2 separate regions of the Homo sapiens genome follow, and region 1 is linked to region 2. A link means that fine-mapping ties the variant in region 2 to the expression of a gene that starts in the linked region. Tissue or cell type: whole blood. Region 2 holds a variant in brackets; the other region holds the start of a gene. All regions are shown on one strand. Distances are from middle to middle. Region 1 holds the start of ABHD13 (abhydrolase domain containing 13). Region 2 holds the start of TNFSF13B (TNF superfamily member 13b).

Region 1 (15,924 bases), 41 kb after region 2:
TTTCAAAGTTTAATGTCACTCTTCAGACAGGTACAGACATAACACACTTCTAAAAGGAACATTCTTTATCATTCTGCACAAATTAAAATACAATGCAATAATCAAAAAGGGAAACATTATATAATTGTTACATTAGATGAAGTTTTTGCCATTTCTTCAGGAGAATGGCTCTTTACGACTTCTTTGATGAACTGTTCAAGTGCAGTGAAATAGCCTTGGCACTGCCATGTGTCATTGTGAGTCCCATCTGGAAAAATGGCTAATCTCTTAGTCCGAGATGGGGAGAGTTCATAAAGTTGTTTCATCATTACTGGTGGAATTAATTGATCTGAGAGTCCAGAGATGAAAAGTGAAGGCATTCTACACTGAGAGATTTTTCTGTAGGACAAAAATTTATTTTTGTAGCACCATAAAGGAAGGTAACGCATCGGAAAGAATGAAAATAAAGTGCTGGCCATATGTGGTATGCTTAAAAATGTGTTCTCCACCATAATGGCTGAAATCCTATGTGAATTTTCAGAAGCCAAATGAATAGCCACTGCTCCACCCAAGGAACGGCCAAAAAGAAAAATTTTTGTTTTATCAAGGTCAGGTCTAGTCATCACGTAGTCTAACACAGCTTCAGAATCTAAGTAGAGTCCTTCTTCACTTGCTTCTCCTTCACTTTTTCCATATCCTCGATAATCAACCAGCAAAAGGTTAACTTTGAGGTTAACCAACATAAGTAATGCATTTGGCAACCTGTGACCTATGTTGCCTGCATTCCCATGAAAATAAATTATAGTTGGGGAATAGGGTGAATTGTCTCCAGTGTATCGTATCAAAATAAGATTCAGACGTATTCCATCTTTGGTTCTGATGAAAATGTTTTCATGTGGAATGCCAGTGGGCATGGGAACATAAAGACGTGAAGAGGATGGCTGTTCTGGAAAATAAAGCAATACATCCTGGAATTTATACAGAATACCTGCTATTGATATGAATATTAACAAAAGTAAGATAATGCCTCCATACAGATGAAAAGTCACTATTAAAGGTAAAAGAGAAATACGGCAGAGAGCCCAAGACCATGAAGCCAAGGCTATTAGCCATCTTTCAACAAAGTTCCACAGCATCCAGGACTTTTCCATTGTAGCTCTCTGTAAGTATCCTAGAGAGAGAGAGGGAGAATATCAATAATTCAACGTCTATCTATTCTTTTAAAAATCCACAATATAATAAACTATGGTACTAGGCCACATGTAATTGTTAAATATGGTAATAGGTACAGTCCATCCACAAAAGTAGCTGCTATAATTTCCCTTGTCCTTTCTGTTCTCAACAGTTTCCTTTCTACCATATCCCTCCACTGTCATATTTAGGAAACACTAATATTCTTCAAATTAACTCATTTTTAACAAGTGCTTATTCTTCATATACGTGTTCTCACGGATTTGACCCAAAAAAAGTTGATGCGATAGTGTCATTTTTTTTTTTTAATGAGAAAACAGAAGCTCAGGGGCATAAGTAGACTGGCTATCATCTGCTTCTCAATGTAGAAGAGCTGGGAGGCAAACAAGCATGATTCTAGAGATTGTGGTACATCTGCTGTTAGGTTACGTATGTCCAGGGCAAACTGTACTGAAAAGGCAGTTCAGAAATTCCAACATAGCAAGACCAATCTAATATACTTTGTCAATTTTTTTCACATACGGTAGCAAAAACTAAAGAAACTAGGGTAAGGAGTTGGGCAAAACAAAATAAAACAAAAAAAAACAACTAGGGAAAGAAAGAATAAAAGTATCCCCCCTCTACCTCGAAGTTTTAATACTAAACTTAAATAATTTGCTTAAACACTAGATTCTAATATTGTATTAGTTTTAAGAAAATTATTAATGATTTATCTTTCATATGTAATTAAAAATAAATATCATATTGCTAGTGTCATGAGATCGGCAGTATCTTTTATATACTCTTTAATGAAGTTTCACGTCCTGGGGTCAATAGATTGCTAAAATGTATTGATAAGGCAATAAATACTTGAGGGTTCAGTGTGAAACAAATACACAGAAATCCTCTGAGAAACAGAGATAAATAAAGTAAAATGACTCACTGGAGAACAATTCTTAAAAAGATTACTAAAATATGTTAACTGATATAAAGAAAGTAAAAACTATTAAAAGAGAATTTTTTGTTATCAAAAGGTTTATACATGTTGTCTTAAAAAGGCAAAAGAATTGAGATATGTTACAAATTTTCTTATGTACTATTCGTCTACTTATGCTTATTTACTGAACTTTTAAAAATACTACATTTCCTTCTTTCCCACTGACCAAACTGCTATAAAGAGGTTATAGATTGATTATACAAATAATGAGTTGGATGATTTAACAAATTTGATTTTTTTCTATTATTTCACTAAACATAGACTTTTACATTTGAATTATTATTCAAATGAACTGAACCTTTTTGAGCATAAACCAACATTTTTCTGATTTCCCAGAAATCAACACTGCCACCCAGTGGTAGCAAGTTTTATTACAGTATCACATCCTCCCTGAATAACTATTTATCACTTATTTCCAGTCTCAATTGCCTTTTCAGTAGAATGAGTTTTTAAAATGCTTACCTATGAGGCTGGTCATTAGTATCAAGTAAGATTAATAATGAGATCATTCATAAATGTTACAGACATGTTAACTTTATTTGCTTTTGTGACTGGTATTTCTGGCTCTACTACTTTCTTACTGTGTTCTGCTCAAATTAGTTCTTACTTAAAAAATTATATAAAACCAGATAAAATAGCTCCAAATACACGAATAAGGCATATTTTAAAATTTGAATCTTATATTTACATTTATATCAATTTACATAGTTAAATTTTCAACTAATGAACTTTGAAAAGTTATTTTCGTTTTAGTAGCCTCTAACATCTAATTTTAGCAAATACTGAATTAAAATTTATAAGACTAGGAATTGTATATCTCTTTTTCACTATTGCATCTCTAATATCTAGTACAGCACTTTATATATACTTACGACTAAAACATTTTTAAAATAATCTAATTACATATACGAATTATTCAATTTATTTTAAAAAAAGTATTCTGAGCAGTGGGCATATATGTTTAAAACAACATCAGAAAAATGGGCGTATTTGTTTGGGTCTATTACTGGCTAGGAATAATAAGGGATAAACTTACCGTTTTCCACAAAACATTCCTGAAAAGTCACATTAACTAAACTGTTTTGTGATAAACAATCATAATCTCACAATCAGTTGTTGCACTATGGAAGTCGGAATAAAAGTCCATTCATCTTGAGTAATATCAAATGGAAGTCATTTTTAAGAACAGGTTAATAAAAATTGCTCTGGGGTGGCGGAGTGCGTGGGTATGGGTGTGTTTTCTCCTTAACATATTCTTATATTGCTGGTTTAGAGTAAGAACTCCACTCACGGATTGCCTTATTTTTACCTAACCCCACTTGCTAATAATCTCTGTTCCCTAGTCTGTATGATATATATTTCCATCTCAAAGGTGATCTTAAAGGAACCAGGACAAGTGAACAATATCAGGAAGGATTTTTAATTTACTGAATTTGCTGAAAGTATCAGCAAAGCATAATTACCATGCACCATCTGCTGAGATGTAAAAACAACTTCATACCCAGATGTTATGACAGTCAATAGAAACAAACACTGCCTCTAATAAAGTCGACTGCATGGATCCTACAGCCAGCATTATGTTTTCTATTGATTTTGTCAATAAATTAGTGTGAGTAAACGGTTAACAAAACCTTTCTCCCTCTTCAGATAAAAAATGACCTCTCCTTAACCTTCCTGCACTGTTTCCCTGGAAACCTGATAAAGGTGGGATATCAGCTGTGTTTCTAAGCAACAGTGTAGTAAAAATGGCTCCTACTGATGAGCTACATCTGGACTGAGAGGACAGTGAGCAGGGCTAAACATGCCCAGTGGGAAGTATAAACAGGGGCTTTTCTGAATTGAATACGACCTGTAATTGGCTTGTCATTTGCTTAGTCCTGGATGCTATACTCACATGCTGTCACAAAAAGACACTGTTTCCTGTGGAGCATGAAGCAGCTAAGCCAGGGTGGTGCTCACTCCCACCCTTGTGTCATTTTCCACTAGACCTGAGCTATCATCTGGAACAATATACCTAACACTGACATGTTGGGTTTTCAAAAAAGCAGAAAGGCTGATGCACAGTACGGTCCACTATGGTATACTGGGTCTTGTGAGTATCAATGTCCAATTGACCCCAAGACCACTGCTACTAGTCATGAAGAATGAGTGAAGCAATCAAGTATGTCCCATGTGGTAAAACACCTATAAAACGTGTCTTCAGAGGAGATGTATTATTTGTTGGGTTCTTCTGCATGTGAAATCCATTTGCTGATAACATCTTGGCATCATAAAAATCAGGAAAAAGGATGCATTTAATACACTCAAACTTATACCAACTAGAAGGGCTGCTGAGTAGGAGAGCCAATTAGACCTGTTCCATGTAGAATATAGAAATGTAGATAATCAATAACTTCTCATCTTCCAGTCTTCTTTTACATCATTATTGTATGTATTTTTAACCTTATGTCTACATCTTAAATGAATACCTGACAGTCCCATTTCTCAATTTTCTGTTTGCTATGTTATCAGATCTGGTATTACATGTCAGACATTTCTAAAACCCACCAATCTGTGGTTTTAACCACCGCCAGTAACTCCTTAACCATTTACTATCTGAGAACTTGCTGACTGACTTCTCATAATGATCTCTCATACAATGTAAACTTCACTTTAAAATAAATCTAGTGGATTTTTCTCAATCCACACTGCAACACCAGACCCCCAAAGTGTCATCTGCTATTGGCTTCTCCTCTACACTCAAATTGCTGTTTCTCTCTGCCCTATACCCCGAAAAGCAGGCATTTTCCAAGGTCTTCTCCACTCATTTAGGATACTATGTTCTTTCCCTCAGTGATTTCATTCCTTTTCATGGCTCCAATTATCACACCTGTGTATGAATTATTCCCAATCTACAAGTCTACTCTTCATCTACAATCTCAATTTACCTGTTCCTCACGTACCTGATGCTTCACTGATATTTCAAACTTATCCAAAACTAAACACATCCTGCTCCCTTCCCAACGTTTTGCAGACTTTATGCTAATTATACACAAAAAAAGCATGATGTGTAAACAAATACATTTTTTAAAAACCCAGGATATGTAGCTAAGATTTAAGTATTACAGTTTATTATAACCTGTACCAGTCTTGTATTTGAATGAAAAAAAAATCAACCTTAGAAACAACTTTTGTGCTTTCTAAATGAAGTGGTTTGAGGTGTCACATTGATATTAGTGAGTGTGTCTCAAAAAATAATCTACTGAAAGCATAACTAATCTTTATTATCATGTACTGTATAAATTAGATATGATTGTTTTCCTTTTACAAGAATGGTTTTGCAGTATTAGTGACATCCTGCTATACTACATAAGTAGTTTGATCATCTGATGCAATTTAATATATGGTGCTCATCTTGAGGATTTATGGTCCTAATTGGCTGGTTGTAGTCACCTCTAGTGCTCCCTACTTACTGTCTCTAAATTTAAGTCCATGACGGGTATACAATAAACAATTTGAGACTAAAAATAAGAGCCGTCTAGAACTGTAAAGCTCTCAGACCACCTTGCTGGCTAACAGTGTTAGCTGGATGGTAAGTCAGCTAAGGGCATGAGTGATGGCCATGCTTCTCTGATGTCTACTAATCATCTCCTGTGTTCATATAGGATCACGAATGGTTCCATTTTTAAGGAAAAATATTTCATTTAAATAACTATTTTATAAACTGATGCTTTAGAAAAAGAGATCAATATTGAAGTCATGCCCACTACGAATGGTATGAGTCCTCAGAATATCACTGCAGGCTCCCAGGGGAGCTGTGAAACCCAGCGTGGACCACTGAAGCAGGCCTACAGTTGATTTCCCAGCCTCTTCCGTAAGAGATGGTCATCAGATTCCAATGCATCCTAGTATACTATACAGTCCTTGCTCTCAAGTAGCTTGTGATCTACTCAGTAACGTTCAAGCAACTCTTGAGGTACTCGGGAGACAGATATGGATATAAATAACTACATACCTAACGTAAGTTCATTTAATTATAGAGCAGACAAAGAAAAATCAAAGAAAGATGACAATTGTCATTACATATAGCAAAGGAAAATCAAAACCTTAGCTGTATCTTTCCTTCACAACATAATTTTAGTAGTCTCTGGATTTCATCAAGGTTGATTACTTAGAGAAACCAAGTGGAAACTTATGCAATGTTTTAAAAGCAGGACAAAACATAACTCCAGGATTAAGAATCTCTATTACTTTCCATCAAACAGCTGTCTGTGACACTTATTTTTATTCATTTAGCACGATTATTCACAGAAACTGCAAGTATTCAGCATAATCTAAATAAATACTTGGCAAGGATAGCATAGAGGAATTTAGAGCTGTTAAACTGGATGAACTTTGAGGGCTCTATTAAATCTGAGATCTTTCTATGCCAGTGGTTCTCAAAAGGTGGTCAGAAACCTGAGGGTCCCCAAGACCCTCTAATGGGGTCCACAAGATCAGTATTATGCTCATAATAATACTAAAATATCATTTACTTTTTTCACTGTTTGACACTTGCACTAATGATGCATAAGCAATGATGGGTAAAATTGCTGGTGCCTTTGTAAGAATCAAGGTAGTGGCCTCACGTGTTGGAGTCACTGTATTCTTTATCACCATGAGCTCACGGTAAATGAGGGAATAATCCAGTTTTACTTAAGAATGTCAAAGAAGAAGCAGTAAAAATTATTTTATCTCAACTAACAAGTACACATCTTTTTAACACATTGTGTGACAAATGTGTGACAACACTGGAAGTGCACATAAAGCATTTTGTGCTATGTATTGAAATACATTTGAATTGTGAGCTGAACTAGCTGCTTTGTTCAGGTAACAACATTTTTATTTAAAAAGACAACTGACAAACTATGGTTGTTCAGACTTAGAGGTTTGGCAGATATTTACTAGAAAATGAATGAGGTTGCCAATAGCTCCTAGACACTTAAGGGACCTTTTTGATGGCACTGTGGTAATCTATTAATATTAAACATGTCACCATTTGGAAAAATCTGCATAACTCCATAAACCAATATATTCCAAATGACCAATGAATGGTGTCACAAAATCAAGCAAACGTGAGTAAAAAATTCACTACAAACCAACAGATTTTGATGTAACAAGAGACAACAATTTCTCTGATGTAGGTTTCAGATGGCACAATATAACTGACCTTTAAGGAAGTGCCTCCTGTTGGGTGATGGAGTCGTACCAACGAGTACCCACAATTCTCTACTACAATACTCTTCCCTTTACAACTACAAATTTGTGTGAGCCTGACTTTCTTCATGTTTCACTTTAAGAGCCTAATAATCTGCCTGTCTTCTATGAGGCAGACATTAAAGATAATTACAAAAATATAATCCCACACCTCTATTTTTTGTAATTACAATTGTTTTATATAAAATTTTATTTATGTGAGTATGTAATGAACTTACTACTGCTATTTTTAAATGAATTAAAACTTCCAGTTTTCCAATTTTAATTTATACACTTTATAAACTTCCAGTTTTCCAATTTTAATTTATACACTTTATAAACTTCCAGTTTTAATTTCTAACACAATAAATATCTATATAATCCACATACATACAAAAAAATCTTTGGGATCTTTACATTTCTAAAATGTAAACGGTCTGAGACCAAAAAGCTTGAGAACCACGGTTCCATACTATTTAACCATATAACTGTATTGCCTTATGCCCCAGAGACTTGCCTTCTTCAAATTAAGAAAGATATATTACATTTTTTTAAATCCTTTCTGCATTATAACATATATAAATATATTTAAGGTTTTTACCCAGTAATATTTTCTCCAAAAACTAAAAATAAATAAAAACTTATATATATCAAGAACTGAAACTCAAAAGTATAGGAGTAAATACATTGTAATTATTGCCGTAAGGTTAGTAGGAGAATAAATTAGACAAATCTATTGTATCATAGATAACATTTTACAATAAAAATTGTATTTTAATGAAGGTCAGAACTGCCCTACAAATTAAATTCTAGTTATTCTAATTATTTTTAATTAAAAAGTGTACATTGGGCCAGGCATGGTGGCTCATGCGTGTAATCCTAGCGCTTTAGGAAGCCAAGACAGGTGGATTGCCTGAGCTCAGGAGTTTGAGACTAGTCCGGGCAACATGGTAAAACACCGTCTCTACTAAAAATTACAAAAAATTAGCCGGGCATGGTGGCGCGTGCCTGTAATCCCAGCTACTAGGGAGACTGAGGCATGAGAATCACTTGAACCCAGGAGTCGAGGTTGCAGGGAGCTGAGATCGTGCCACTGCACTCCAACCTGGGTGACACAGTGAGACTATGTCTCAAAAAAAAAAAAAAGTGTACATTGTTTTGCATATTGTATATCGAGTTACGGATTCTGCCACCAGCAAATGGTCTTTTAAAAATACAAAAAAGTGCATTACCCATAGTGAATTACAATGAATTTCCGAAAAACAATTTGGCAAAAGGCTAAACAATTTCAAATACAATTAAAAAGTCCTAAGTCATAAAGGCACTATTATTTCTTTAAAGATCTTTAAGTCCATCCTAGATTGATAATTTTGGGAACAGCTTGTTTAAAAATAAAAACTGTTCATACATTTAAAAAAAATGTGCAGGTTCAAGTGAAGACTGTAAAAAGTGGAAAGGGAGTTCGTGTGTCAATGCCGACATCCACATCCCAGCAGAGAATGAGGACCCCACACCCCATGGGCTCATTAATTACTCTGGGTGAATCACAGCTTCCAATCACATGTGAAGTAATGTGGAACTCAGATTCAGTATTCTTATATCAATCTCTCTCCTCTTCTGTTAAGCATTGGGAAGTTAAGAAACCATGCCAGCTGCACAGCTGAAATGGAAACACAAATAGCTGCTATCAAGGTGTTGGAGACACCACAGAATGAATTATCTATTTCCCTAATGGTTACCCACATGCCATCAATAATGAAAAAGTGTGTATTAATAGTCCTATGGGACAAATGAACAGTAACTGCCTATGGAGATGCTGGATAATAACTGGATGGTTCAGACAGCATCTTTAACTAGGATTTAAATCTGTATGAGCAGATAGCTCAAAAATTATACCAGGCAGCTACTTAGTAGCTTTTTCATGCTTGAAAATCTTGGCAAATAGAGTCAACTCTGGCAGAAGTAAAATGAGAGATTATTGTTACTATGGAAGCCAACCACAATTTGTTCTGAGATTATAAATATCTGAAATGTTTAAAACAAATCCACTAGCCTAAAACTGTAGTGATGTTAGACTGATAATGAAATTCACAAAGTTTCCAATTTATAAATGGGCAATGTTCTAAAACTTTACCTATAAACTAGATGGATGAAACTTAGAATATTTGTTTTGTATAAAACCAGTGTTATATAACATTGAGTATGTGAAAGTAAGTACAACTAGAAGCCTTACTAGAAGTATCTAGATTCTCAGGCTAGCTCATAAATGCATGTAGTCCCTGTACTGGAAATACTACATCTTTGCAAGGGATTTCAGCAGAATATACTGTTGTAGGAGTTCACACCATGTGAAACAGAAACATAAAATATAATAATGTATTACAAAATCTGTCATTTGAGGAAAAATATCTTACTTAGAAGAACTAGAGCATCTTTTAAGTCCACACGAAAAAAGGCTATTTAAAGGTCTTAAGACTTTCCTGGGGCAACTAAACAAGGATTAGAAAGATTTCAGAATCTGGGTAATACATTAAACAGAGAAACAGAAATAGATTCCCCTGAGATAAGTTATGAGAAGAGATCATGGGAAAATGTTAGATCCAACAGTTTCCTGCACCTATCACTAAGTTATATTGTTAGCCCAGGGCAATTTGGTTAGTAAACCCTCTTATCCACATGCCAAGAGGTCTTTGATGTGCCCAAGAAGAGGGCAGTGTGCCAAGGGCTACCTGTAGGTACCTGGCTTGCTTTAATCATTCCAAGTTAACTGTCAGTGGGAGGCAGTGTGGTGCAATGGAAAGGAGACAGTGTTTTGAGTCATGGTCTGTTAAGAGATAGGTAGCTTTTGCCAACTCACTTAGCCTCTCTAAATATATATTTCCTCGTATGTAAAAGGAGGATGAAAGATTAAATTGAACTACTGTTGAGATAAAATGTAATAGTGTGTTAAGTGCAGCTACTTCTATGAGACAAAATTTAAATTACTTAATTATGTACTATAGCAGAGTATGTGAAAGTAAGGACAACTAGAAGCCCTATTAGTCCTAGATCAAATAATGGATATGATTCCCTAGAGGTACCGTATCTGAACACAGGAAGTAATCAGAGCAATGCACTCTTTCTCTGTTAAAACCAAACTCAGGTAGTAGATCCTCTAGAAAGCTTTCCTTGGACCCCTATTCCCTCCTGCCACCCATTCCACATTCTGTAGTTTGTGCAAACTTACGTGGCAGAAGTTACTATTACAGCGTAATTAACCTGCTTACACAGGCTGTGAGTTCCTCGATGACAGAGACCTCGTCCTATTCAACTCTACATTTTCTGTACGCAGCAGTGCCTGATGCATAGTGGGCCTCTATTAACGATTATTTAATTGAGCAGCTGATGTCTTAGGTAGGATATCATGACATTAACACTAAATCGGCAATCAAGAAATCTTACACAGTAAAATAAAATTTGATATTTTAGTCAAAGACGAGTGATTTCCCTAAGCATGCATACAAATAAGTATTGATCCACGAACCCCCTCCCGTCAAAAGAGATCAGTGAAAAATCCAATATCAACACACAAAGCCAATATACTCATCTCTTTCTATCCAGTTACTATCACATAGTAAACATAAATAAGAGTTGTTAAATGGGGACGGACTTTTTTTTGGTTTCGATACCTTGGGTAGTAATACTAGTAATTCATTTTACTTAAATGTTGACTAAAATCTACAGCAAAATTGACTTCGATTGTATGGGGTGCTTTTTTGATGTTTCCTGAATAACCCCAGAACTTCCTGTCATGATATTCACAGGTCTAAACCTGTTACTGTCGTGATTAGATCGGGGCTCTCCCTCTCTCCAACCTAGTAGCTGGAATTATTCTATTTTACTTTTCATGTCTGTGTGGGAGGGTGGGGGAGCGGAGGGTTGGATTTTAGGGATCTTAGGTTTGTACACATTACTGGAAATACAATTGACATAGAACACTAAGATACGTTTTAGGTTCCAATTACAAAACGACACCCGGCGAGCCTCTGGCAATGCGCGCACCTTAGTTTCCAAAACAGGTATTTGGCTTCAGTTTGCTTCCCCTGGTGAGTGGTGAGCGGAGTCGGGGCGGCCGGCAGGGCTGCACCCCGGGCTGGTCCTCCACAACCCCCGGCGCTCGGCCCCCGCACGACCCCCAGGGGAAGCCGCACTAGCCCCGGGGCTCCCCCCACAGCCTCCCGGGAGGGTTTCGCGCCCGCCTGGAGGAGCCGGCGGCTCCCCGCGACCCTCCTAGAAGGAGCGGACCGGCGCTCGGGCCCCGCGGGCTCGGGGTCCCCGAGCCGCACTTACTCAGACTCGCGGACAGGCTGCGCAGTCGGCCGCGGGCACGAAACCGGGCGCCGCGCAGCAGCGTACCCCCGCGTCGCTTCCGTCGCTCCTCATCATCCTCCTCCAGCCCAGGGGCCGCTGCCGGCGCCACGGTCTAGCCCGGAGCTCCTGCTGCGAGCTGTGGCCCCACTTCCGGCCCCCGCTCGGGTGTCGCCGGCAAATGCCCCCGCCGGCTCCCACATAACCTGTTCTCCGTCTCCGCTCCCGGAGTGGGAACCCTGCCCGCTCTTCCGAGCATGCGCAGAAGCCGCTGCCAGTGAGCCCCCGCGACGGTGGCCCGGACGGAAAAGATACCTCGGCGGCGTGGGCCCGGCTCCCTGCTCCAGGACCTAGGGATCTTGGCCTTCCACCCTCCTCCGAGCACCAGGACTCCCTCCAGTTCCGTACCCGAGGCCTCCGTGGTGAAGAGGTGCCGGACCCGATGAGCTCGGGAGTCCACCATCGCTCTGCAAGCCGCAGGTTTGCGGAGCAATTTGTTCTGCCTGATAGGGTTGTTAAGGGTGTCGCAATGAGGTCCACGATTTAAAGCGCTTCCATAACTATTTTTCTCCTTTTACCTCTACGAGAGTGGACTGTCAAGGGCGAATGCAGGTTTTGTGAGGCCTGAACCTTGTGCCATTTGGAGAGCCCTTTTAAAGAAAAATAATGTAAAATTGTCTTATTTTTGCAAATTTTACCGAGGTACACGACCATGGGAACACCTCGTTAGGGCCCCTCTCAAGGCCTTGGAAGTGTTCGCAAAAATGGGCCCTTAAAACTTGGGCTTCATTAGCTTCGCTGTCAACCCCCCTGTGCACTGAAGTGTACACACTTGTTTACAGATGTGTGCCTCCCCTCCCTTGGGCTTTCCTTATTCTATGTCCCCTATTTTATATATACAGAGGATATTTCATAAATCTGTGGGTTTTTTTTTTTTTCCTTTTGAGATGGAGCCTCGCTCTTGTCGCCCAGGCTGGAGTGCAATGGCGTGATCTCGGCTCACTGCAACCTCCGCCTCCCTGGTTCAAGCGATTCTCTCGCCTCAGCCTCTGACCTAGCTGGGATTACAGGTGCCCGCCACCACGCCCCGCTACTTTTTGTTTTTGTTTTGTTGCTGTTTTGAGACGGAGTTTCGCTCTTGTTTCCCAGGCTGGAGTGCAATGGCAAGATCTCGGCTCACCGCAACCTCCCGCCTCCCGGGTTCAAGCGATTCTCCTGCCTCAGCCTCCGGAGTAGCTGGGATTACAGGCATGCGCCACCACGCCCAGCTAATTTTGTATTTTTCTTCAGTAGAGACGGGATTTCACCATGTTGGCCAGGCTGCTCTCAAACTCCCCACCTCTGGTGATCCACCCACCTCGGCCTCCCAAAGTGCTGGGATTACAGGCGTGAGCCACCAGGCCCGGCCTAATTTTTGTATTTTTTAGTAGAGACGGGGGTTCACCATGTTGGCCAGGCTGGTGTCAAACTCCTGACCTCAAGTGATCCGCTCACCTCAGCCTCTTAAAGTGCTGGGATTACAGGCATTAGCCACTGGCCCGGCCTGTGGTGTTGTTGTTATTGAACATATGTGTCTTGCTACCAGATGGAGAGCTCCAGGTCAAAGCTGGGTTCTTGAATCATAGCTTCCTAATCTTGATCACGGAATAAGTGCCAAGCATATATAAAGTAGACCATTTACATAAATAAATTAATAATCATGGCAACTCTAGAAGATACTTAGTGAAAAAAACCCTTGATTGTCTTTGAACCAATCAACTAAAATAACATGATGAAATGGAGACTGGGCTTTGAATCAATTTGGAGTTTGCCTGGTTTCATAATTCATGGTTCTTCTCATGTAACTAATACAAAGTCCAGCTTCTGACATTGTAGGAGCTCAGTAGAGGTTGAACAAGCTACAAATGTACACGGATAGGTACCCTCTCCTAAGATGGGCAAGTGGAGGCTCCTCTACCTTAACACTATTCATTTTTCCTCCAAAATAAATTGATAACTAAATTGAAGAGCAGATACTCACAAAACAATATCATGAGACTTTACAACATCACAGATGATTTTAGATATTCAGGCATATTAGGTCAATTAGACATACGAAGTAAATAACTGAATGTTCTTGGGCTAGACGGAACCTCCGCTACAAACTAGCACTGAATGAAATGTGTCAGTTTTGAAAAAGGAGGTTTTTATACATTACACAACCTCTAAGGGCACTTAACAGCTCTAATATGTTTTATCAGGGCCCACTGCAGCAAAATTTATTTTATTGTAAAGCAATATTTTATGCTAAAATAAAATAGTTCTAAAAGTTGTTTCCACCCCTCTTTATGAATAACTTCTCACTTCTCCATGGCGAAAGAGGACTGACCACAGCAAAAATTCGGTGGAAACCAACAGCTCCTGGAACACAAAAACTGGGGTTGTTTATAATCTCTCCACCCTGAATATCTAGCACCATTACTATATAATAATAGGTGCTCAATAAAGGTTTGTTAAATAACTTTATTTTTAAACCTTAAACAGATACTAGAAGAGTCCATAGTTGATTTCTGGTCATGCAACGGTTTATTTCTATATTGTAAGTTATGTATTGTTATGTATTATTTCTGTATTAAGAGAACTGAGACCACAGTAGCAAACATCATTTAAAAAAAAAAACAGCTCTATATAGTTTGCAAAAGCCTATTTTTTAAAAGTTTAAATGAAACAACCAACGTTTTGAGTTGGGAGGATGTCCTGTTCTCTCTTGGGAGTTTTCACAACCAGCGAAATCAGTATAGTTACCACTGTTTTACGTACAGAGAACAAGAATTAGAGGCTATCACTAGCCAGAGCACAAAGTGATCTTAGGTCTCCCTCGAGACAAAATCCACTGGCGTGTGGATCAACTGCTTGCAGAGAGCATCTGCTGCCGAGGCCAATAGGAGCCGTGTGTACTCAAGACCCTAACCAGGATCCTGCAGGTCCCGCCTCCGCAGCCCCACGGGGCTGCCGGCCCCCCCACCTCCCATCGCGAGCCTGGCTGCGCCGGCGTGCTTGAGCCCGGTGACTGCAAGGCCCCGGGTCTCCCCTGCGCCTGCGCGGCGAGCAGCTGGCGGAACCGGCATCTTCTGGCGCCAGCTTCCGGCTTAGCGGCTGAGCTTCAGGCTTGACGTCAGGTGGGAAGGGTGTGGGGTGGCAGGTGGGGGCGGTTGGGAGGTTGGGGGGGGTTGGGGTGGGGGGGGTGGGGGGTGGCAGATTGACGGTGTGGGGGGAGTCAAGTGGAAGGTGTGGTCCAGCAGGCGGCGAGAAGTCTGTGGGGCAACAGACCGGGGGAAGGTCTGTGGGGCGTCAGGCGGGGTATCTGTGGGACGTCAGGTTGGGGTCTGTAGGGCGTCACGTTGGGGGTCTGTGGGGCGTCAGAGGGGGGAATCTGTGGGGCGGCAGGTGGGGGGTGTTCGGGGCGGGGTTTGGGGTGTGTGTGGCGGCAGGAGGCGGGGGAGGTCTGTGGGGCGTCAGGTTAGGGTCTGTGAGGTGTCAGGCGGGGTTTACGTGGGGTGGCAGGTGTGGGGTGTGTGGAGAGTCAAGTGGGGGGTGTGGGGCGTCAGATTGGGGGTCTGGGGGATCAGATGGGTGGTGTCTGGGACGTCAGGCGGGGGTCGGGGGGTCGTCAGGCGGGGGATGTGTGGGGAGTCAAGTAGGGGAAGTGGGGCGTCAGATTGGGGGTCTGGGGGATCCGGTCGTGGGGGTGTCTGGGACGTCAGGCGGGGGGCCTGAGGGGCGTCAGGTGGGGGGGTCTGGGAGGCGTCAGGCGGGGGTCGGTCTATGGGGGCAGCAAGCAGGGTGTTTGTGCAGCGGCAGGTGATGGGAGTTGCCGAGTCCACAGCGCTGTAGACTGCGCCGCATTAGAAGCCTGGCCTCCTGATGCTGTGCTCTTCATCTAGACCCAAGCCCCAGGTCGTGGGACGATTTCTCCCGTTTTTGACTCCCTGGAACTGTATTGCCTGCTTTACCTGCGTACATGTTGATTCTTTCTCATGGCAACCCCGCAGGAAACCATCAAGATCTCATTTTACAGCTGGGATTCTCTGGTTCACAGAGGTAACGGAGCTTGCCCGAGGCCAGGTATTCACTGGGAATCCGTGAAGGGTTGGGGGAGAGTAGGGGGAACGGGCAGAGGAATGATGTAGACTCCTTAGGGATTTTCCATTTTCCGAGAGGGTACAGGGGGCATTGGA
Region 2 (16,187 bases):
AGCGTCACTGTGAAGGTTAAACGAAATAGTATGTTTGAAAATGCCTATTCTGGTCTATAGCTGTACGATACGTTCCAGGTGCTCAAAAAATATTCTTTCAATATATTTAATAAAAGGACAATAATATTAAGAATTTGTTATATTATAACTTTAATAAATGTATACAAAGATTCTTTTTTTCACCTTCAAATGAAAGAACTAGAATCGATCATTTTGGTAGGCCCCACCAACTCTGTAAAGTTCCGTGGAATGAGCAGAACATGAAGAAAGTCAGAAATCAGTAAAGGACGATTATAAGAAGACGATAAATGCATGGATCCCCTGGAAAAGCGTACCTTAAAGAGAAGCTTTAAAATCTGTGTGTGTGTCTGTGCGTGTGTGTGTGTGTGTGTGTAAAATAACCTTTTTAACAAATAAACAAAATTAAAGTACAACATACAGGGCCTTTCATTACAACCTTCACCTGGTTTCACAACATGTAATGTACATTCAGAAAACAGATGTCTTTAACTTTCTATGACCCAGGTAGTAAGCAAAGTCTAATTCTAACATGTAATGCTTTTTTTTATTTTTCTGGAGTGATGAATAATGCTTCTCACATGGGAGGGCATTATCTACCTGAGGAAACACATATGGCCCTTTTATCTCCTCTATGCTTAATGCACAGATAAATACTTACACACGCACAGAGAAATGCTTCCAGTCACACGATCTGCTCATTGGAGGAAAAAGCACACCCATGCAGCCTGTTACATTTGCCAGCGCTGGGGCTTTGCTCTAAAGCAATGTCTGCTTTGGATGGCAAATTTCATAGTCTCTATTTAATAGGTTCATAGAGGGGATACTCACCTCCAGCTCCCCCAGACTGGATGTTATTCTCTAATCCCTGACTCCTAAAAGTGTCTGTGCCCAAAACATACCTGTTTCTTCTGGACCCTGAACGGCACGCTTATTTCTGCTGTTCTGACTGGAGTTGCCTTCTCCTGGAGCTGGTGGTTCAAAGATCTATGAACAGAAAAACTTCAAGTTATTAGAAAGACAGCTGAGGCGAGGGAGAGGCAGCAGTGTAGGCAGGATCTTGCCTGCGTCTTGCAGCTGCTGCAAACTCACTTTCAGTCCCGCGGTGACAGCTGGAGCTTCCTCCAGGCCGGCCTTGGGGGCTCCTGCTCCTGCTGGCAGCTTCTCCGCGTGGTGGCCCTGCAGCTCTGCCCGGAGGCTGGCCAGGTCCCCTTGCAGGGCGGCCACCTGGTAGAAAGACACCACCGTGAGGCAGCAAGACAGCAGTGCCAGCAGCAAGGTTGCAGCCAGCAGCTTTCCGTCTTTGGAGGATCGGACAGAGGGGCTTTCCTTCCGTGGGAGGATGGAAACACACTCCTTCAGTTTCATTTCTTCTCTTTTCTTAAGGCAAGAAGTAAGGCGTGACTGCTCCCTTTCTGTGGAGTCATCCATATCACTACTTGAACTTTGAAGGTTGGGGCCTTTAGAATAAGTGACCACAGGGAATGGATCATTTCCTGTTATCTGTGTTTGTTGATGTCCTGCGTGCACTACATGGCAGGGCTTGGCTCACCCCTCAGGAGAGTTATCCTGAATTTTCTCCTTTCTGCCTTTCTGCATCTCTACCCCTACTGTACAGTAGGTTTGCTGGCATTTACCCTCCGATTGGATTGCTCAATCTGTCTTCCTCATTTCACTTTCAGTTTTTGTAAGAATTTCAAAGTCTTCTCATAACACTCATGCTCAAGTAGATTTAAAACCCCTTAAATCTGCTGAGGAAACTTGGAGTTTGGATTGGCACAGTCAAGGGAAAGCTTTTAAGATATGCTCAGGTCTGAGAAGCCCACCCTTAAGTGTAGCAAGGGAACTCTGTCTGCTTGGGACCACATGGCTTCATAAGGAAGGGGGAAAAGCAGCTGAAAGTTCCTGCTGCTGTCATAAAAATAATTAATGTGAAGGTCAGATAAGCTAAGTGTTTTAGCATTGAATTGTTCTTAGCTAGAGAGTGATTTATTAACAGTCTTCAATTATGAAATAAAATGGAGAATCCTTGAAGGAAGTGTGGAAGTAAGTCCACTGGGAATTATTCATATTATTATACTAATAATGTCATAAAAAGAATGAGAGTAAATGTTACAGACGTATTTAGGTTAGATATCTGAAGGATTCTCTAAATATAAGTGAATATATTTTTAAGGAAAACATGCATAAACTTTTTCCTTCTGGGACTCATCACTGAAACTCAATCATGCATATGAACAGCCTGTCCCAAGGAGCCTGGTCTCAGCTTTTCTGCTCAGACTTCTGAGGCTTTAAGTCCCCGCTCAATATGATACTAGTTGAGGAGAATCAGCCTTGCCTCCAGCTCCAAATGCCTGACTGCTACCATTAACCACTCTCAAGTAGCTTGTCTACAACTCCCATGTTGACTGTGCCACAGCCTAACAGGTCGGTGTACAAGAGGTCCTTGATCACACAAGAGCCACCTTAGCTTTGGATTTTTCTGTTGTTGACTTGGTGGACCTGTGAGGACTGTTGCATTCATTCTAGTCCTGCCTTATCCTGATGGCTGGTTCCTGGACATTCCCCAGTTTTTCACTGCTTTGCCCCAGCATTGAAATATTGATTCATCTTTCAACAAACGTTACTGAGCACTTACCAAGCCCTGGGTAGTCACTACTCCCCTGTGGACTAAGAATAGTGAGCTTTAGTTCTGTCTCACTCTACATTTCCACACAGTCTTAAGTAAGAAGTTTACAGAAATGATATAGTGCAAAGTGGAGAACTCCAGACCCAGGCTTCTAGACTGCAAATCCTGCCTCACCCTCGCTCTCCTTATGCAAAGTACATAATCTCTCTGTGATTCCATTTCCTCACCTGTGAATTCGTATGACGATATTAACTGTCCCTGGGATACATAATGAGGCTTACAAGAATGTGGAAACAAATTACATTTTGGATGCTTCCATTTAAAAAAAAATTATTTCCACAGGTTTTTGGGGAATAGGTGGTATTTGATTACATGGTTAAGTTATTTAGTGGTGATTTGTGAGATTTTGGTGCACCCATCACCCGAGCAGTGTACACATTGAACCCATTTTTTAGTCTTTTATTCCTCACCCCCCTCCCACCCTTTCCCCTGAGTCCCTAAAGTCCATTAGATCATTCCTATGTCTTTGCATCTTTGTAATTTAGCTCCCACTGTGAGTTAGAACATACAATGTTTGGTTTTCCATTCCTGAGTTACTTCACTTAGAATAATTGTCTCCAATCCCATCCAGGCTGATGCGAACATCATTAATTCATTCCTTTTTATGGGTGAGTAGTATTCCATCATATATATGTATCATAGTTTCTTTATCCACTCATTGATTGACGGGCATTTGGGCTGGTTCTATATTTTTGCAGTTGTGAATTGTGCTGCCATAAACATGTGTGTGCAAGTATGTTTTTCGTATAACAACTTCTTTTCCTCTGGGTAGATACCCAGTAGTGGGATTGCTGGATCAAATGGTAGTTCTACTTTTAGTTCTTTAAGGAATCTCCACACTGTTTTCCATGGTGGTTGTACTAAATGATCAGGGAAATGTAAATCAAAAGCACGGTGCAATGCTTCCATTTTTTCATTCACTTTTATTCTTTACATTCAAAGTATGAATGAAACATTTTTCAGTTACAAACAGTGCTCTAATAGATATTTTCTACAACTGTGCTTGTAACGTCTGCAAGGGTTTCCCAGCAAATGCCTGCTGAGGGAGAAGCACATCTTCACTTTTACAGGCACCACCCAGTTACCCTCTGACGAGTTCCCATTTCCTCATTGTCTTACTACAAAATGACGCAGTCAGACTTACTTGTTTTTACCATTAGGATTGTTTTTTGTTTTTTGTTTTTTTCCCTTTGCATCTGCAAGTTTCCAAGACCTTTTAAAAATAACTTGTTATTATCCTGGCCCCCAAAATAAGCTGCTCTCTAATTTTTCTTACCTATAACTCCCACAATAAGGTGACCGTGCCCCAGTCTAACAGGTACGTAGACAAGAGGTCCTCCATCAACCTTCTCAGGTGGAAGTCTTCTTTTAGAAGGATGTTTGTAAACCCTTTTGCATCAGGAATGACAGTCCAATTCTTTTCTGTCAGTTCTTGTTCCAGAACAATTAGGGTGAGTCATACGGAGTAACCTTGCCATAAAAAATGGAATTCGTATGGGAATTGTATGAAGGCCTTCTTACTGAAAGTCATTGAGATCCTTTAGATGATGTGTTTGTGTATTCTTATGATTTAAATACATGCAGAAATGAAAGGATGCAACGCAGTGCTAGAAAGCAATTTCTCTCTGCGTTTCACTCAGGGTTTCCTGTAGCCACTGCTTCTCTCCATCCATGGACATTCTCCCTCTTCTGGTGAGTCGTTCCCCTCTATATCCCTCAGAGAAAATTCTGAAGACAGGGAATGATTTGACTGCTTTAGGGAATTCCCTCTGCCTTCGTCACTGTGTTGGGCAGAGACTTTCATGCCTGAACATCTCAAAAGAGAGTCACTGGCCAGCCTGCACGCAGCCATTTTTAAACCAGTGCCGATGTTTGTTGCGGCAGTGAGCCGTGCCATGCATAAAATGGGCAAGTTCTTCTTCCACAAAGGGCAGCCATCATGTCCCTCTGGCTAGAGGGACAGCAAGCAGGGATGGCAATGTGCACATCCTCCACAGGGATCTGACAGCTGCATTTTCTCTAAAGACAGGTAGAAAACGAAGTGACATTCATGACTCTTGAATCTCTTATTAGATGAACAAAAGGAAGTCATTACTCCATAAATCAAGAATCTGTTTCCGGAAGAGGAAATGGTTTGGCAATAATTTAACAGAAATTCTGTTAAACAAGAAGCATGTTCACGTTCATTGAATAATACACCACATCACAAGTTTATTCAGGGACAAAAGGCCACTGTATCTGAGCCACAGATTGTGCAGCGATCTTATTATACATTCAGTGTTTATTGACAGTATTTAGCTGCTTTTTACACACATCTTTTTCTCAATGTAAGTGTAAAGCATTCTTCTGTCATTCAATAAACAAACTGAGATACTAGGACTTTGTGACTGACGAAACTGTTCTATCCACTCAGAAATAGGCAGATAGGATTCAAAAGAATATAACTTGTGAGTTTGTCCGGGAGTCAGAAACAGCAGAAAATAAACATTCACTCTCTGACTATGTTCTTACATTGACAACCTCAAAAATATTTTTAAAAATGAATTATAAATTTCTGGCTAAATAGTGCTATAAAGAATTACAGGTTTGAGGAATCTCTCCTTTGCCCTTTTTCTTTGAGGAAAAGCGTGTTTTCCTCAAAATCCTTTGAGGAAAAGGATTTAGACCAGTCAAGCATGGCGACAACAGCTCTTCTAGATCTGTGAATGTACTCGATCTGTAAATGTACCTAAAATTACATCTAGATAAAATTGGTATCCTAAAGCACTCAGAATATGGAAGATTTATGATATAGGTTAAGTATTGCATTTCAGGAAAATATGCTGTTTTCCAGTAGAAATATTATATATATATAAAATATTTATATATTATATATTTTATATATATATTATATATAATGGAGAGAGAGAGAGTATGTGTGTTAAGTTATTATATAGTTAAATTTGATTTGAAAGGCTAAATGTTAATCACTGTATATAATTTTTAATTTAAAAAATTTTTAATTGACACATATATATTTATGAGATACAGTGTCATGTTTTGATATATGTATACAATGTGTAATGATCAAATTAGGAAAATTAGCATATCCATCACCTTAGACATTTATCATTTCTATCTGGTGAGAACTTTGAAAATCCTGTCTTCTAGCTCTATTGAAATATATAATATATTATTGTTAACTATAGCCGCCCTACTGTACAATGGAACACTGGAAATCGTTCTTCCTATCTAACCCTGACTTTGTACCAGGTGACAAACCTCCACCCCAATACCTCCGGTAACCACTCTCCTACTCTCTACTTCAATAAAATCAACTTTGTAAGATTGCATATATAAGTGAGATTACACAGTATTTGTCTCTCTGTGCCTAGCTTATTTCACTTAATATAATGTCGTCCAGGCTCATCCAGGTGGCTACAAATGACAGGATTTTACTTTTTATGGCTGAATAGTAGGCCACTGTATTATACCACATTTTTAAAATTCATTCATCTATTGATGGGCACTTAGGTTGAGTCCATATTTTGGCTATTGTGAATAGTGCTGAATCAACATGATTCATTGATTGGATGAATGAATCCATTTCTTGGATCCATTTCTTGGATACATTGATTGCTTTCTTTTGGATATAGACCTAGTGATAGAATTGCTTAAGTATGGTAGTTCTGTTTTCAGTTTTTTGAGGAACCTCCATACTGTTTTCCATAGTGGCTGTACTCATTGACATTCTCACTAACAGTGCACCAGCGTTCCCTTTCTCCACATTCTCACCAGCTAGAGGTCACTAATGCTAAATGAAATAAGCCAAGCATAAAAAGACAAATATCACATGTTCTCATTCATATGTGGGAGCTAAAAAGGTAGGTCTTATGAATATAGAGAGTAGATAGGTGGTTACCAGAGGCCAGGAAGAGTAGGAAGAAGGGTGGAGGGATGAAGAGAGGTTGATTTATGTTAGAAAAAATAAAACCTAATGCTTGATAGATTAGTAGGGCAACTAGAGTTAGCATTAATCTGTTCTACATTTCAAAATAGCTAGAAGAGAATCATTTTAATGTTCCCACAAAACAAAAGGATAAATATTGAAGGTGATTAACTTCCCAGTTACTCTGAATTGTTCTTTTCATATTATATGATGTATCAAATTATCACATATACTCTGAAAATATGTGCATCTGTTTTGTATCAATAAAACAAATAAATTAAAATTAAATGGACTGCAAATATTTTAATGATTTATTTGAAATTTCGCTTATTGAATGTTGAGAAGAGGATGGGTTTAGGAGTGTAGGCTCTGAAGCCAGAAGCATCTGTATGCCCAATTCTGCTTCGCCATCTTAACAGAATCTTTCTTGCCCCAAATCTAGACGCTGACTTTGTTTAGATATCTATCTCTGTGGGATGCCGACATAATCTCACACTTTAGGGAAGTCCTAATCATGAAATCTACTCACGATGACTCCATCTACATCACCACTGATTGCTAAGGAGGGACAAATGAGAGAGGCTTTTTACAGTTGGTTGTGAGGTGGTCTCCTGGGGGCACTGCTAAGAAAGAGTTCCTCATTCTTAAAGAGATTGACAAGAAAGAGATGCTCTTCTTCCACTAGACATTACAAGCCTGTCTGTGATCACCGAGAACTGCCATCCTGCAACTGCCGTCAGGCCCAGACTGAAACAGTGACGGCAAGAACAGGATTCTGGAGGGAACCTGGCTCTGTAAGGACATAATTGTCCTGCTGGATTACTCAACTCTTCATGCTTGTTATTTGGATCATACTATTTCCTAACTGTTTACGCCAATGTGAGACAAGATTAGGTGTTAATTCATCCAAAGACATCCTAAATCTGCTAGTTAGATTAGCAGTTGATTAGGATCCAAAGACATACTAATTCTGCTAGTTGTAAGAATTGTATTCTTACAACCAAAGAACTTTGTATAAGAGAGTTTTAAATGTTCTTTCAGAAATTTTCCAAATGTCCACTTTTTGAAACTACGGTGTAAAGAGAAAAGGTCAACACCCACAAGCTAGAAAAACTAATTCATTTGTTAAGAAGAGTCTTGACCGGGCGCGGTGGCTCATGCCTGTAATCCCAGCACTTTGGGAGACCGAGGCGGGTGGATCACGAGGTCAGGAGATCGAGACCACGGTGAACCCCGTCTCTACTAAAAATACAAAAAATTAGCCAGGCGCGGTGGCGGGCGCCTGTAGTCCCAGCTACTTGGGAGGCTGAGGCAGGAGAATGGCGTGAACCCGGGAGGTGGAGCTTGCAGTGAGCCGAGATTGTGCCACTGCACTGCAGCCTGGGCGACAGAGCAAGACTCCATCTCAAAAAAAAAAAAAAAAAGAGTCTTACATCCAGTTTTAATATAGCTATTTTTTAATAATTTAAGCTCTTTAATATGTTAGGAATCTTAAGAAAAATTATTATTATGTGAAGATGTGTTTAATGAATCTGTCTTTTCTATGTGGAACCAAAAAAACGTAGTCAACTCTTTCAGAAAAAAAAATGCAAAATTAGAATTTGTGCATCTCCGTGTAAGAAGGGAATAATTTCAAACTAAGAAAAAGTAAGAGAGATATAGTGTATTCTGAGAAAACTGCAACATGAATGCATCTTTCTTCTCCTTTACTAACAACTGTAAATTATCTTTCTTCTCTGAGCCAAATTGCAGTAGAACTTAGAGGTAATTGGGTGTTAGCGAGGGGCTTTTTGCTCTAATTGGCCCTAGATAGAGAAAAATAATGTTTGAGGTTTATTTCTCGAGAGTATTTGCAGTACTATATGTGAGACCCAAGTCTCAATGGGTCTTAGATAGAATGGTTGAGCAGAAATCTGTGGGCCCCAGGCAGTGGCTAACATCAGCCTCACAGGAATATGCCAAGTTTCCCGGGCCTCTGAGTACCCACAAAGGGAGTAAGTGCTTGGGGTTAGTCCTCCCTGCCCCTAAAGCTGAGAGACTATCAGGGGATCACAAGAAACAAAAGCCTCCCCCAAATGCCTCAGAGTAGACTAGAAGTTTCCCTGTTAGTCCAATCCTGGCTCATAGGGTTAGACAGGACTTGATTTCCCACCTCCTGAGGCTAGACTGCCCCAGCTGAGCCATCAAATCAAACACAGGAGGTGTTGAAGAGAGAAAGCTTGAAATTGGGATATCGGGAGAGATGCAAGAAGTGGCTGGACGTATAAATAGTGGCTAGACTGCAGTGTTTTTGCATGCACAGCTGTGGTTGTGTGAAATGTGAAAATGAAGCCATTTATATATATATTTTAAAAAGATTATGGCAGAGGGTAGGGTGGAAGTAGGGAAGATATGTACAGAAAGAAATGATAAACTAAGAGTGTTCAGCTCCATGAGTGCAGAAATGTGTGGTTTCTAGCCTATTGTATCTCTAGTGCCTGGAACACTTGTCCTTCATGGATTCTGCTATTCTCTGTTAAATGCTGACTAAATAAACGTCTTCCAATGAAAATTAAAAAAAAGAGAGAGAGAGGGAGAGATAAACCATCAAAGAAGGAGAGCACAGAACATCCCAGCATACACACAACACAAAGGGATGGAGACAACTTGAATTTTAAAAACTAATAGAGGACTTAAGATTCAACTGAAGAAACTTTTTAGGAACTAAAAAATATCTCTATAGTTTTCAATTAAATAATTTAATACATGCATTGAAGAAAAGGATGGTCACTTTTGAGCACTGAGTTACTGGCCTGCAGGCTCAAATAGAAGTAAAATCTCAAAACTCAAGAGTGTTTTGCAACTCACATGCAAGAAAAATGGGAACATAAAAGGAGGGAGAGGATATAGACTAAATAGAGGCAATGACATAAAAACTTACAGGAGAAAAGAATAATGCTTCTTAATCTATGAAAGAGCTGAAACTACAGTTTGAATTAGCTTATCAAGTCCTAGGTTAAAATGCTGAGAAAATCTGTATGGGTAGCTTTTTGGAAAAGAAAAATAAGCAAGTAGGTCGGGCGCGGTGGCTCACGCCTGTAATCCCAGCACTTTGGGAGGCCGAGTTGGGCGGATCACGAGGTCAGGAGATCGAGACCATCCTGGCTAACATGGTGAAACCCCGTCTCTATTTAAAAAAATACAAAAAATTAGCCGGGCGTGGTGGCGGGCGCCTGTAGTCCCAGCTACTCAGGAGGCTGAGGCAGGAGAATGGTGTGAACGCGGGAGGCGGAGCTTGCAGTGAACAGAGATCGCGCC[G/A]CTGCACTCCAGCCTGGGCTACAGAGGGAGACTCCGAGAAAGAAAAGAAAGAAAGGAAGGGAGGACGGGAGGAAGGAAGGAAAGGATGCTGAGAAAAATCGACCCAGGTAAGGTCTGATGGTATTACTGAATATAGAAAGAGTTGTTGGGATATGATGAAAATAAAGTATATAAAATCTTGTAAAATGCATTTAAAGCTATTTTTATGAGAAAAATCATATCTTTGATGGCATGTTTTAAAAAGAAGAATGGAAAGAAATAATCTGAGCATACAGGTCACAAAGCCCTAACAAGTTAAAAGGTGAAAACAAATTAAGCTTAAAGATTGGAGTAAAAAATATAAAAGAGATTAATGAAATAAATAATAACTTTACAATAAAGAGAATTAAAAATTGGTTATTTGACATAACAAATAAAATTAATAATTTGTAGTAAGACACAGTACAAAGGAGAAAGTATGAAATTTCAATAACAGAAATTTTAAAAGCGGGACATTTTAGAGCTATTACAGATCCTAAACAGGTAAGAGGATATTATGAATAAATTTGTGTGTAAAATTAAGGGGAAATTGGAGTATACATGCATTTCTCTTGAATACAAAAAAAAAATGAAATAACAAAGTAGCTAAACCAATTGCAAAGGAAGGATATTCACCATCCACTCTTTCAGTATTGTTCTAGGTACTAGGCATACAAAAATTAAAACAGAGAGAAAAAAAGTCAGAAAGAAAAAAGAAAACTCCTGTGTCATGGAGTTAAATTCTATTGTATAAGATCATTTTAAATGATTTCAATTTTTACTTGATAAATTTATACAAAACAGTTTCTCATCTGATTTTCCATTTCTTTTGTATCTGTGGTTAAGCATTTTTTTTAAAAATTGTCTGCATACAATTTCTCCTTTTATTCTTGAAAGAATAGCAAAAACTTGTCTGTTTTGTTAGTGTCAAATAAGTAATCAGCAGATAGTTCTGTTTATTATCATTATGAATTGTCTCATTCTACTTGTTTGTTTTGTTGTTTTCTTTAGTCTGACTTCTTCAGTTGAGTGTTCAAACATTCATTTCTTTTCTTATTTGTTGATAGGCTATTAAATTTCCCAAGAGCATTGCTTAGTAAAATTCAATGATATCAGGTATGTATTGTGTTTTATTATTATTGTGTTTTTTATATATTGTGCTTATTATTTTCTAGAAACGATTAATAATATAAATTAATCTAAAAATTTTGTTTGGCTTTCCAATTTGACTTAAAAGTTATTTAAGAGATATTTGTTAATTTGTTTTAATTTCCAGAAATTTTCTTCATTTTTCTCACTAACTTCTATTTTATCGTATTGCATTCAGATAATTTTCTCTCACAATTTCTACTTATAAAGCTTAATCAGAGTTTCTTTAGGGATTAATAGTATTGTCATTTGTGTGAATGTAACATAGCTACTTGAAAAGAAGGGATATCCTTAATAATTTTATTATTTTAGTCTACAATATCTGCATTTTTGTTTATATGATGTCATAGAATAATAGAGATGAGTAAAATTTCCCATATCTAATGTTTTTTCCTGTGTATTTCCAGGTGTTTTTCTTGTGGTTTCAGCTTTATGGTTATTGATGCTATATTATTTAACATTATAACACTTAGTGCAAAGATATTAAAAAATGAGAGGGAGATAATAAATTATGTCTATCAAAAAGATAACTTTTTCCCCAAATGCACAAGTGATACTTAAAATTTTAATCAAAATGGACAACTTTAAAAAGTAGTCTTTTACAGGCTACCATGACGGATAGTTTGCAAAGACTGGAAGAACTACTCTCTGGTGGCATGCCTGTTTGCAATGTGACTGATAATAAGGTTGGTCTGTCTCCTTATCCCCTAAATCTGAACTGACCTTGTGAATTGCTTGCTTTGACCAGTAGAACACACAGGACTGCCTCCCTGAGACCCGCATGCAAGAAAGTCAGTCTAGCTTACTGGAGGATGAGAAGATACATTGAAAACCACTAAAGTGCCTGAACCACCTGCCAGCACTTACTGCCAAATGTGTGGGTGAGGCTATCTTGAACCCCCAGCCAGCCTGGCTGTCAGAGGCATGCGGCCACACACATGAACTCAGGTGGAGCTGGCACAAGAGCCACCTGAAAAACTCACAGAATTACAAAAATAATAAAGGGGAGCTGTTACAGGGCACTAAAGTAGGGTGGTTTATTACTTAGTAATACCTAAGTGATATATCCCATTCATTGATTATAATCTCATAAAAATAGAAATCATTACAAAAAGGTGATCAAAGAGTTGCTTACTTGAAAATGTAAAAATACATTCATAGGTCAAGTTTGTGTCAAAGAAGTATGCGAAACTGAGGTTAGAAATTACCTAGAAAATCACAAAAGGGAAAACAACTTATACCAAACATATGAGCCAGAGCAGTACTCACTAAAAAATTATAGCATTGAAAACAAAGCTATAATATAAACACAATGATGTCCAAAAGAATTAATTCTCATCCAAAAGAATTTAAAAAGGAATAAGCCAAAATAATCCAGGTAATGAAATTAAATAAAGATAGCTAACACTGATGATTAATTATATATTGTTAGTTAAAACGTGAGCAAAAGTCATTCTTTATATATACATATACATATACAAAAGTCATTCTTTATATATACATTCTTATATATACATTCTTTATATATACATTCTTTATATATACATATATATGTATATATACATATATACATATATACGTATACGTATACATATACATATACATATACATATACATATACATATATATGTATACATATATACATATATACATATACATATACATATACATATATACATATACATATATACATATACATATACAAAAGTCATTCTTTATATATACATATGTCTATATAAAGAATGACTTTTGCTCACGTTTTAACTAACAATATATAATTAATCATCAGTGTTAGCTATCTTTATTTAATTTCATTACCTGGATTGTTTTGGCTTATCCCTTTTTAAATTCTTTTGGATGAGAATTAATTCTTTTGGACATCATTGTGTTTATATTATAGCTTTGTCTTCAATGCTATAATTTTTTAGTGGTTTCAGCTTTATGGTATGTGTATATATACACATATATATGTGTATACGTATACACATATATATATGTGTATATATACACATTATATATAATGTGTATATATACACATATATATGTATATATATACACATATATGTGTATGTGTGTGTTTGTGTGTGTGTATATATATATATATATATATACACTTCAAGTTCTGGTTTATATGTGCAGAGCGTGCAGTTTTGTTACATAGGTATACACGTGCCATGGTGGTTTGTTTGAAAATGTAAAATAATAAGGTTGTTTTGGAAGCCAATCTAATGATACTAGAAATATTAAAAACATATCTACACTTCAACTCAACAGTCTCACTACTGAGAATTTATCCACGGTATCCATGGTGAAAAAAAAACAATAGAAAAAGTGTGTGTGTGTGTGTGTGTGTGTGTGTGTACACATGATGTTAAGTAAAATTAAATTCTATTTTGTTTAATGATCTATCAGGGATCAAAGATTTCCCTTGTGTTTTTCTGCTACTCAAATATAAAGACTCTTGTCCTCAAATTGTTTGATTACCATGACTGATTGCTAAAACAGAAATATAATTTTATATGAAAACTCATAAAATCTGTTTTAGATACTTTCAGACAGTCATAAAACATGTCTAGTAGTGGAGACAGTATGAGTTCATAATTGTACTTGTCGTTGGTTACTTCTAAATTTACTAAATTTAAAATGCACTTGCTAATTTTTTGTCTATTTTAAATATAAGCCTCTGGTTATTAAAAAGTAAACAAAAACTGGTGGGTGATTCCCAGAATTTTAACCAAAAGCATAATCTGTTATCTCATGGCAACAGCTGTTTACATACTTTAAATTGAATAATGAGCTTTCAACAATTTCAAAATTTAAACACAATCCAGACCAATGTTGATATTTCCACACTCAGGACAAGTGGCGCAGTGTAAAATTCATGTGAAAATCTTATCACTATCAACCACCAACACTAGCAACAATTAACCAAGGATAACAAGTCAAATCAAATAAGTATAAACTGTACTCTACTAGTGACTACTGAAAATTCAGCATTTCAGAATACTAATCTTCAATCCTTTATCAAAAGCATTTTTTTGACTTTAAAAAATGTGGTAAAATACACATATATTATACAATTTACCATCTTCATTATTTTAAAAGTCACTCTGCAATTTCTCTTTAATATCAATGACTTGTGAATTTATAATTCTCACTGTGTCCCAAACAAGGGAACCTATTACATTTTGTAAACTTCTGCAGGTCATGAATTTTGCACCTCAAAGAGGATCTGTGTGTTGTTGAAGGCTTAAGAGGACAGCAGTGTGTGACACAGAATCCCGGACTAGCACTCAGAAAAAAATGTGTTCTGGTTCAGTTGTTCAACTACATTTAGTCATTTGACTCTTTGGTTTTATCTCTGTATTCTTTGTGAAAAGATGTAATCTTTTCTTTTTTTTTAACTTTATTATTATTATACTTTAAGTTTTAGCATATATGTGCACAATGTGCAGCTTTGTTACATATGTATACATGTGCCATGTTGGTGTGCTGCACCCATTAACTCGTCATTTAGCATTACGTATATCTCCTAATGCTATCCCTCCCCCATCCCCCAACCCCACAACAGTCCCTGGAGCGTGATGTTGCCCTTCCTGTGTCCATGTGTTCTCATTGTTCAATTCCCACCTATGAGTGAGAATATGCGGTGTTTGGTTTTTTGTTCTTGCGATAGTTTACTGAGAATGACGATTTCCAATTTCATCCATGTCCCTACAAAGGACATGAACTCATCATTTTTTATAGCTGCATAGTATTCCATGGTGTATATGTGCCACATTTTCTTAATCCAGTCTATCATTGTTGGACATTTGGGTTGGTTCCAAGTCTTTGCTATTGTGAGTAGTGCCACAATAAACATATGTGTGCATGTGTCTTTATAGCAGCATGATTTATAATCCTTTGGGTATATACCCAGTAATGGGATGGCTGGGTCAAATGGTATTTCTAGTTCTAGATCCCTGAGGAATCGCCACACTGACTTCCACAATGGTTGAACTAGTTTACAGTCCCACCAACAGTGTAAAAGTGTTCCTATTTCTCCACATCCTCTCCAGCACCTGTTGTCTCCTGACTTTTTAATGATTGCCATTCTAACTGGTGTGAGATGGTATCTCATTGTGGTTTTGATTTGCATTTCTCTGATGGCCAGTGATGATGAGCATTTTTTCATGTGTTTTTAATTTCCTTAAGCTGATAAGCAACTTCAGCAAAGTCTCAGGATACAAAATCAATGTACAAAAATCACAAGCATTCTTATACACCAATAACAGACAAACAGAGAGCCAAATCATGAGTGAACTCCCATTCACAATTGCTTCAAAGAGAATAAAATACCTAGGAATCCAACTTAAAAGGGATGTGAAGGACCTCTTCAAGGAGAACTACAAACCACTGCTCAATGAAATAAAAGAGGATACAAAGAAATGGAAGAACATTCCATGCTCATGGGTAGGAAGAATCAATATCGTGAAAATGGCCATACTGCCCAAGATAATTTATAGATTCAATGCCATCCCCATCAAGCTACCAATGACTTTCTTCACAGAATTGGAAAAAAACTACTTTAAAGTTCATACGGAACCAAAAAAGAGCTCGCATCGCCAAGTCAATCCTAAGCCAAAACAACAAAGCCGGAGGCATCACGCTACTGACTTCAAACTATACTACAAGGCTACAGTAACCAAAACAGCATGGTACTGGTACCAAAACAGAGATATAGATCAATGGAACAGAACAAAGCCCTCAGAAATAACACCGCATATCTACAACCATCTGATCTTTGACAAACCTGACAAAAACAAGCAATGGGGAAAGGATTCCCTATTTAATAAATGGTGCTGGGAAAACTGGCTAGCCATATGTAGAAAGCTGAAACTGGATCCCTTCCTTACACCTTATACAAAAATTAATTCAAGATGGATTAAAGACTTACATTTTAGATCTAAAACCATAAAAACCCTAGAAGAAAACCTAGGCATTACCATTCAGGACACAGGCATGGGCAAGGACTTCACGTCTAAAACACAAAAGCAATGGCAACAAAAGCCAAAATGGACAAATGGGATCTAATTAAGCTAAAGAGCT

Evidence for each region. PIP is the estimated chance that this variant, and not a neighbour inherited with it, causes the effect.
Region 1: it holds the start of ABHD13, and the variant in region 2 is fine-mapped to the expression of ABHD13 in whole blood (TOPMed, PIP 0.96).

Annotation. Positions count from the first base shown.
Region 1 is chr13:108,214,425-108,230,348 of GRCh38, reverse strand. ABHD13 (abhydrolase domain containing 13) reads right to left here and starts at 11,957. Exons shown (of 2, transcript NM_032859.3): 1 at 11,690-11,957; 2 at 1-1,150. The coding sequence starts at 1,130. The coding sequence ends at 117. It overlaps LIG4 (DNA ligase 4), which reads left to right and starts at 14,813. Exons shown (of 3, transcript NM_206937.2): 1 at 14,813-14,865; 2 at 15,739-15,811. RefSeq lists silencers at 11,435-11,674, 14,611-14,750 and enhancers at 11,955-12,284, 14,594-14,888.
Region 2 is chr13:108,255,158-108,271,344 of GRCh38, reverse strand. It overlaps TNFSF13B (TNF superfamily member 13b), which reads right to left and starts at 1,627. Exons shown (of 6, transcript NM_006573.5): 1 at 1,111-1,627; 2 at 921-1,005. The coding sequence starts at 1,449. RefSeq lists a silencer at 722-801 and enhancers at 702-1,210, 1,162-1,591. The variant G/A (reference allele first, on the strand shown) is at 9,933.